Linked DNA regions of Homo sapiens: region 2 is linked to region 1. The links come from fine-mapping of genetic effects on gene expression. A gene starts in region 1. The other region holds a variant in brackets. All regions are shown on one strand. Distances are from middle to middle. Region 1 holds the start of NGB (neuroglobin). Region 2 overlaps TMEM63C (transmembrane protein 63C).

Evidence for each region. PIP is the estimated chance that this variant, and not a neighbour inherited with it, causes the effect.
Region 2: its variant is the best candidate, but not a certain one, in a credible set for the expression of NGB in cerebellar hemisphere (GTEx, PIP 0.86).

The regions. Positions count from the first base shown.
Region 1 is chr14:77,268,809-77,273,189 of GRCh38, reverse strand. It overlaps NGB (neuroglobin), which reads left to right and starts at 1,984. Exons shown (of 4, transcript NM_021257.4): 1 at 1,984-2,341; 2 at 3,864-3,975. The coding sequence starts at 2,253.
Region 2 is chr14:77,215,029-77,219,409 of GRCh38, reverse strand. It overlaps TMEM63C (transmembrane protein 63C), which reads right to left. Exons shown (of 24, transcript NM_020431.4): 3 at 447-609. The coding sequence starts at 596. Among named protein-coding and RNA genes, the nearest start is that of TMEM63C, 35 kb to the right of the region's middle. The variant T/C (reference allele first, on the strand shown) is at 2,719.

The sequences.
Region 1 (4,381 bases):
CCTTGGCTTATCTTAGCACATATCTCCTGGCTCTAGGAAGACAAAGAGTGAAGCCATGGTTTGAGTACTGACTCTACTTACTAGCTAGGGCCGTTAACTCCCACTACCTCATCAGACTCCAGACCCTGGCCAGAGGAGAGAGGAAGCAAGATGGGTCCTAAGTATAGATTGCTGGCAAGAAGCGTGAGCTGGGTAGAGTGGGGTACCTGAGACCAGCCAGGTGGCCTGCACAGAGCACTGAGCATCTGGGCACTGAATAGTGAAGGTCACCAATGACACGTGTCCTTGCCCTGTGACCTGCTGCACCTGGCTGCAGGTCCACGGGACCCCAAGCTGGAAGTTTAGTCACGTCTTGTTCCTTCAGCCCCAATCACTTTGTGTTCTTGCTTGGAGACCTCTTGGACCCTAGGACACCAGCTTTTCCAGGCTGCCTTATAGCCTTGCTCTCCTGCTCCAGCCCAGAGATTTGTGAGGAAATGGGAAATAGAATAGGGGTTACCACAAACTCCTGAGTCCTTGGAAGAGGGAGAACAGCTAGATGATTTCCTGGGGCATGGCTAGGAGTAGGAAAGAAAAGTTCTGCTGAGGCACTCAGTTCTGATTCAGGGCCAGAAGGAGAAATTTTAAAGACCAGGACTCGCCACTCCATGTCTAGCACAGGGCTGGGCATGGAGCCCCAGCTGTTCATAACCAGGGGCTCAAGAACACCCACCTTCTACCCATGGAACTAAAGGAGGTGGACTAAAAGGTCCCAGAGACCTCACCACCCAACCCCTTTGCTGCACAACTGAGGAAACAGGGCCAGAGAGGCGTGGACAGACAGAGGAGATAGGCTCGGAGACCCCTGAGGGAATAATGAGAGAGAAATAAAGGTGAAAACGGGCTTGCTCTCCCAAACCTGGGCCACCAGCACTGGGCTGGGGCTTGAGGAACTTTCTGCTTGAAAGAGAAAAGTTTAGTTGTAATTGGCAGGTGGCCAATTGCACACCCTGAGTGGGGAGCATGGATTCTATTATCTGAACTTCTATTGAAAAAATTAAACAGTACTTCCGTTAAAAAAAAAAAAAAAAGGCCGGGCGCAGTGGTTCACGCCTGTAATCCCCAGCACTTTGGGAGGCCGAGGTGGGCGGATCATGAGGTCAGGAGATCGAGACCATCCTGTCTAACACGGTGAAACCCCGTCTCTACTCAAAATACAAAAAATCAGCCTGGCGTGGTGGCGGGCGCCTGTAGTCCCAGCTACTCGGGAGGCTGAGGCAGGAGAATGGCGTGAACCCGGGAGGCGGAGCTTGCAGTGAGCCGAGATCACGCTATTGCACTCCAGCCTGGGCGACAGAGTGAGACTCCGTCTCAAACAAACAAACAAAAAGATGAAAAATCATGGAAGTGGGGAAGGCCCAGGGAGGGAAGAGGTGAAAAATTAAAATTAAAATTAAAATTAAATCATGGAACGGTAGAATGTTAGAGCTGAACTCCCTCAAGATTCCACCCTGGCCAAGCAGAGCTGGGATTAGAACTGGATCTCACGGCTTTCTAAAGATGGAGTCTCAAAAAAACCCAGGCCTGGCTGGGAATGGCTGTGGTCTTGGCCCTGTCCCTACGGCTGAAAGCCCTGGTGGCCCCCAACGTGTGCTGGTGCCCTAGTCAGACCGAGAACTAGGCCCCTAGGCCGCCTCCCCAGGCCTGACCTGCAGGCCAGGTGGGTGGCAAACTCAAATGCCTCTGGCAATGCGTGAGTTGAGGGGCCTGTGGAGAGGGGGCGCATGCAGCGCCTACCTGAGGCGACCAAATTCAACACAGTGCCCTCGGGGCTCGGGAGGAGAAACTGAGGCCCAGAGAGCCTCCGCGATGTCAGTTACGTTCTGCAGGCCGGGCCTTTCCCAGGCCACCATAGCGGCTGGCGGAGGGAGCGCGCGCCTTGCTGGCCTGGAGGGGGCGGGGGCCGTGGCGGCTTTAAAGCGCCCAGCCCAGGCGTCGCGGGGTGGGGCGGCTCTGGCGGCTGCGGGGCGCAGGGCGCAGCGGCCAAGCGGGGTCCCCGGAAGCACAGCTGGGGTGTCTCCACCTACGACTGGCCGCGCGCCTTTTCTCTCCCGCGCCAGGGAAGGAGCGGCTGCGGCCCCCGCCGGGCGGAGGCACGGGGGGCGTACGAGGGGCGGAGGGGACCGCGTCGCGGAGGAGATGGCGCGGCACGTGCGGTGACGGCACCCGAGCCCTGAGGGTCCCAGCCCCGCGCTCCGCGTCCCCGGGACAGCATGGAGCGCCCGGAGCCCGAGCTGATCCGGCAGAGCTGGCGGGCAGTGAGCCGCAGCCCGCTGGAGCACGGCACCGTCCTGTTTGCCAGGTGAGGGCTACACGAGCGCCCGGGGATGCGGGTGGAGGCTGCCTCGGCGGGAAAGGGGTCACGCGGCAGGACCGGCCCCGAAGGAGGGAAAACTGGCCGCTGCCGGGGCGCTGGGGCGCCTGCCAGATGTGCGCCAGAGGAGCGGGGCGCGGCGACGGGTGGCACAGCCCCTCTGCCTCTCTCTCGACCGTGGGCGCCTGTTGCCAACCAGCGCCGCACACCACTCTCCCAGCGGGGCTCACCGGGCCGGGCGGGATCCCCTCCCGCGGATCTCCCCACATCTGGGCGGGTGGACCTCCGTCCCTGCGCGGCGCCTCCACCCCGCCTTGTGCCTCCTGCGTCTTCCTTAGGTAGCGACTGCAGGGGTGCACCCCGCTGCCGGTATCAGGGTACTGGGGTGCCCCGAGAGCCGGGGAAGGGAGATGTGTGGGGCGAGCTCCTGCGCCCGCGTGTGAGCGGTCTGGCTCCAGGTGTGTGGATCCCTGACAACCAACAAGACAAACCTTTCCGAGGAAAGAGCCAGAGAGCAGCCGGGGAAGGGGTGACAGATGCGGGAGCCTCACCGCAGGGGAGAGGGGTGGGGGGTGTGCAGGCCGGGTGGGAAGGGAAGGCCAGTCTCCAACCTCAGCTCGCAGTTTTGGTAACCCTTCCGCTATCACCAACCGGGCACTGCTTCCCTCACCGTGGTGTTACCTATCCTTGGCACCCTTGGACAGTCCAGAACTTCTACCCAGGCTTCCGCAAAACCACCCCCAAGACAAAAGGGGAAAACATTCAGTTACCCGGTGAGACCTCCCAAATGCCGAGGAGGGCCTCTGCTTCTGCCTCCGGACTCCCCCCAGCTCACTTTTTTCTCAGGCACCCGCTGTGGCTGCACTACATCCAAGCTGTGTGACCTTAGGCGAGTTCTAGCCTCCCCGGGCTTCTGTTTTCTCCTCTATAAAACTGGGATAACAGTTGTACCCACTGCTTAGGACAGTGAGGAATACAGTTAAAAGTTAACCACACGGAAAGTACTCAGCGCAGGGGGGGGGGGGGGGGGGGGGGGGGGGGGAGAGGGAGAGGGAGAGAGAGAGAGAGAGAGAGAGAGAGAGAGAGAGAGAGAGAGAGAGAGAGAGAGAAGAGAGAGAGAGAGAGAGAGAGAGAGAGAGAGAGAGAGAGAGAGAGAGAGAGAGAGAGAAAGGGCTTTCCTCTCCACACAACGTAACTCCAGGTTTCCTGTTTGGGGACCTCTTCCTGTCCCAAATCACACCCCTCAGCTATTCACCGAGGGACCCCTGCTTACCAGAGGCCCTGGGACACATTTGCCCTTTCTAGGATGCTGCCCAGAGCCAGTAGAAGGCATGAGGAGGAGGGCACTACCGAAGCTGGCGGGGGAGCAGTGCCAGGTGGGAGAGTCAGCTGTGGTTTGCAGCTGAGACCTGGCTTGGCACCCCCGCCCGCTGACTGCAGGACAGCCAGGCTTGCTGGGGCTTGCAGGAGCTCACACCCCAGGGCTAACACCTGGGCCTCACTCCCACAGGCTGTTTGCCCTGGAGCCTGACCTGCTGCCCCTCTTCCAGTACAACTGCCGCCAGTTCTCCAGCCCAGAGGACTGTCTCTCCTCGCCTGAGTTCCTGGACCACATCAGGAAGGTGAGAGGGAGGCAGAGCTGCTGTGACCTCTGGGATCCAGCAGAGCACCTCCCTGGTGGAGAATGGAGAAAATGACTTTCTGCCCCAGGTCTAGTCTTACTCCCTTCCAGTTCCCCCAAGCAGGGTACAGCTCCTTTCCCTCTGGGCTGGATTGGTCTGGGACATCAGAATCAGCCTCTTCCCCTACCCTGCGTTCAGAGAGCTGGTCCCAGCCTGTGTCATTGCCTTTGTCCTCTGGCTCCCATAGGTTGTGTTAGCACAGATCCTGGTAATTGGGAACTATCTGCCTATGAAAATCAGGCTGAGATTTTCTTAGAATCTCATGATTCTCAAAGGGCCTCAGTTTCTCCTTGTCCCAGCAGACAACACTCTCCAGTAGGTGTGTTTAGAGATGTGAATTTCTCAG
Region 2 (4,381 bases), 54 kb after region 1:
TGTCCCTGAGGTCCCCAGGGAGCTCCTCCACTAGAAGGTGAGCTCTGTTGGAGTAGGGGCCATTCCTTTCAACTGTAGGTTGCCAGCGCCCAGCAGCTTCTGGGCACAGAGTGGATGCTCAGAGTTCATTGAATGGAGCTGGAGGCATGTTCAGATCTATGGGACCAGAATGTGCCTTGAAGACCTCAGCAATGAGAAAGAGGAAGGAGGCCAGGTGAACCTCTGGACAATGATGCACAGAAAAGAATCCCAGGAATTCTGCCTGTTCCTCCAGCCTCTTTGAGGCCCACCTACCGGGGCCACCCTAGGCAGGACTGACATTCAGGCAGTTTGTATCAATGTTGTTGTTGTCCATTTGGACAACTGGGTCCCCCACTGCATCACCTGTGAAAGTTCGACCCTGTCTGAGGCTTTACTGTCTGCCTCCTGCAGTGCCCAGGACTCACCACCCACAGGGCGATGTTGAGGCACAGCACGGTGGGGACACCCCCAAAGGGCTGCCCCTGGAGGACGGTGTTCCGAGACTGGAAGCATTCATCCACTGTCATGTTCTGTAACCTTCCCCCTGTACTCAGGTCGTCTGGTGAGGCAGACATCCTGGGAGGATCCCTGGGAAACAGAGGGCATCCAGGTCAGATGCAAAGACTCCCTTGCATTTTGCAAAACACAGAAGCCCGATGGGGAGTTGTGGGATGGGCACCGAGTGCCTCGGCCAGGCTAGGCCACTTCAGACCCAAGACAGGAGGGCCAGCCCACGAGACGGCACACAGCCCTGTCCTGCAAGAGAACAGCTGCCTCAAACCCAAGGCCGGGATGACAGACTGGTTCTCGTTTCCTGGGAGAGTTCTTATTTTGTACCACTGGATCCCTGAAACAAGAGTTGTAAAATGCACATCCAAATGTGCATTTTTCCAGTTCTACCTTGGGAAGTTTTTGTTGTATATAAATGAACAAATTTCACAAATGTGGGTCAGACCCCAGTGTGGAAATGTTCAGGTTGGAAGTCAAAACCGCTGTGTTCACGGAACGCCCATGCAGACGGGGCTCAATGACAATCATCTCTGCATTCAGCAATCTCTGATGCAGTCACCATCCAGCCATGGTAAGGGCCATAGCTCCTAGGGAATGCAGTGCCTGGCATGTGCAGTGACTCAAGAAACACCCCCCTCTTTTTTTTTTAACTTCTGTGGGTACATAGTAGGTGTATATATTTATGGAGTACCTGAGATGTTTTGATACAGGCATGCAATGAGATATAAGCACATCAGGATAAATGAGGTATCCATCCTTTCGAGCATTTATCCTTTGGGTTACAAACAATCCAATTATACTCTTTCAGTTGTTTTAAGGTGTACAATTAAATTATTTTTGACTATAGTCACCCTGTTGTGCTAGTAAATACTAGATCTTATTCATTCTGTTTTTTGTACATATTAAGCATCCCCACTCCCCACCACCCTCATATCCTTCTAAGCCTCTGGTAACCATCCTTCTACTCTCTATCTCCATGAGTTCAATTGTTTTAATTTTTTTGCCCCCACAAATAGCTGGAAATATGTGGAGTTTGTTATTTCTATGCCTGGCTTAGAAAGGTCTCTGTCTTCCAGGCATTTGAACTAGGGAGACCAGGACCTGCCCAGGGACCTGAGCCAACTCCGTGAGCCTGAACATTTTGGTGAGACACCAATGCAGAGCCTGCCGTCCCTGGCATCACATTCCTCAGGCATGGATAACAGTGGGAAGGGCAGGTGAAAATGGGAGGTGTCCGGTAGCTACTTGAACTTATCTGCAAGGTGGTTGTTCTCTCAAAAGATCATTCATTTTGCCTTCAGACCTCACCTCTACCTGGAAACCCTTCACTTCCATTCGAGAAAAGTAGACTCATTCATCCATTCATTGATGCATTTGAATATTTGGTGGGCAACTGCTTTATGCTAGACAAATGCACCAGTGAACAAGATAAATAAAAATCCCTCCCTTGTGGGATTCTACTGGGGAGACAAAGTGGAGGGATGAGGGTGAGGTTAGAATTGTAAAGGGGTGATTAGGGAATTCCTCACTGAGAGAATGACATCTGAGCAAGGACTTGAGGGAGTGAACCATGCAGCTGTTGGGGAAAGAGCACTTTAAGTGGAGGAGAGGCCCTGGGCTTCGAGCTTGCCCGGAGAGTTGGGGAAGCAAGCAGACCAGTGGGCTGCACAGGGCAGGGCAAAGGGCATGGGGAGTGAGCCATGGAGTGAATTAAAATGACTTTTTTTTTTTAAGAGAGAGATAGAGCCTCACTCTGTCACGGTGGCACAATCATAGCTCACTGTAGCCTCCAATTCCTGGGCTCAAGCAATATTCAAGAGTAGCTGGGACTACAGGTGCATGCCACCACACCAGGCTAATTCTTAAAATTTTTTGATAGAAACAAGGGTCTCACTATGTTGCCCAGGCTAGTCTCAAACTCCTGAATTCAAGTGATTCTCCTGCCTCGGACTCCCAAAGTGCTGGGATTACAGGCTTTAATGAGATCTCTTTGATCCTCATATGGAGACTAGGTGGGGGAGCAGGAGGGGTGAACAAGTGGAGAAGTAGATGCGGAGAGCTCGGCCAGGGTCCGGGCAGGAGACAATGGTAGCCTGGACTGGGATGGGCGCAGTGGAGGTGAGAGACGTGCTCAGATTTTGGAAATATTCTGAATGTGGAGCCAACAAGATTTGCCGGCAGATTAGA[T/C]AGGGGATGTGAAAGAGTGAGAGGAGTCGAGGATGACTCTCAGGTTTTTGGCCTGAGCCACTGGAAGATAGAGTTGCTGTTATGGAATGGGAGAGGCAGAAAGTGCAGGATGGAAATGGACAGTAGAGGTGGAGGGGGAGTGCGTGCAAGGGTGAAACCAAGAGTTGAGTTTGGAACATGCTAAGTGGGGACGGGGAGCAGGGATTTGGATAGGTTAGTCTGCAGTTCAGAAAAGAGACTGGAGACATAAATGTGAGACAAAAGCCACTGGCATAGCGACAACTCTTCGAGGCAAAGCCCTGAATTACAGAAGAGAATGTAGTGAGAGGAGAGATCCAAGGTGGGAGCCTCGGGGTGCGCCAATATCTACAGGGCAGGGGAGGAGGAAACAGAGAAGGAGACTGAGAAGTAGCAGCCAGTGAGGAAGGAGGAAAAGCAGGAGAGGGTGGTGTCCTGGGTTGAATGAAGACAATGTTTCCAGGAGGAGGGAGGAACCAGTGTTGATGTGGTCAAGAAAGATGACAACTGTGAATGAGCCATGGTTGCTCTCTCTCTCTCTCTCTCCCTCCCTCCTTCCTTCCTTCCTTCCTCTCTCTTTTCTACCTTCCTTCCTCTCTCTCTATCTCCCTCTCTATCTCTCTTTCACTTGAGGCACGAGCCACTGCGCCCAGCCAAATTAGCCATGGTTTAAGCCATGTGCAGGTGGCCAGACTGGAATAGGCTCCAGAGAGAATGACAGGAGAGGAATTGGAGCCAGTGGGCAAAAACAGCTCTCTGGAAGAGTAATTGGAGGTGAAAGTGGTTAAGACGGGAAAAATAACACATTGTATAGTGGTGGGAATGATTCAGTAGAAGAAGTAGGAGGAGGGGGGAACTGCTGGAGCAAAGTGAGACTGCGGGAGGCTTGGGAACTAGTGCACAGTGGAGATGTTTACTGAGAGTCAGGCTGTTGGCTGGGTGAGTGGGAGGGAAGGCAGCACACATGCTCAGGTGCTGGCTGGTCCCAGGAGTGGCGGCGGCAGCCAGTGAGTGTTCTGTCCTTACTGCTTCTAGTTTCTTTTTCTTTTCTTTTCTTTTTTTTTTTTTTTTTTGAGACAGAGTCTCACTCTGTCGCTTAGGCTGGAGTGCAGTGGCACCATCTTGGCTAACTGCAACCTCTGCCTCCAGGGTTCAAGCAATTCTGCTACCTCAGCCTCCTGAGTAGCTCGGACTACAGGTGCCCACCACTACACTTGGCTAAATTTTGTATTTTTAGTAGAAATGGGGTTTCACCATGTTGGCCAGGCTGGTCTCAAACTCCTGACCTCAGGTGACCCACCCACCTCGGCCTCCCAAAGTGCTGGGATTACAGGTGCGAGCCCCCATGCCCAGCCTTGCTTCAGGTTTCTCAGTAAAAGAAGGAATGAGGTCTCAGCCCAGTGTGAGGTGGTGGTGGTGGGCGGATGTTGGATGTTTGGTGACAGGAAAAAAAGGTAGAAATAGAAGTCTAGGGGAATAAGAGAGGATGGATTACGGAAATGGAGCAGGATTGCCAGGCAACAATGGGGCCTGTGGAGGCTCATGATCTTGAATTGACGAGAGCAGCCAGACTTGCTGTGCTGGATTCACCTGTATGGTTGCAGGTGTGGAAGACTTAGTAGGGGTAGAGGCTTCCCCCCAGCAA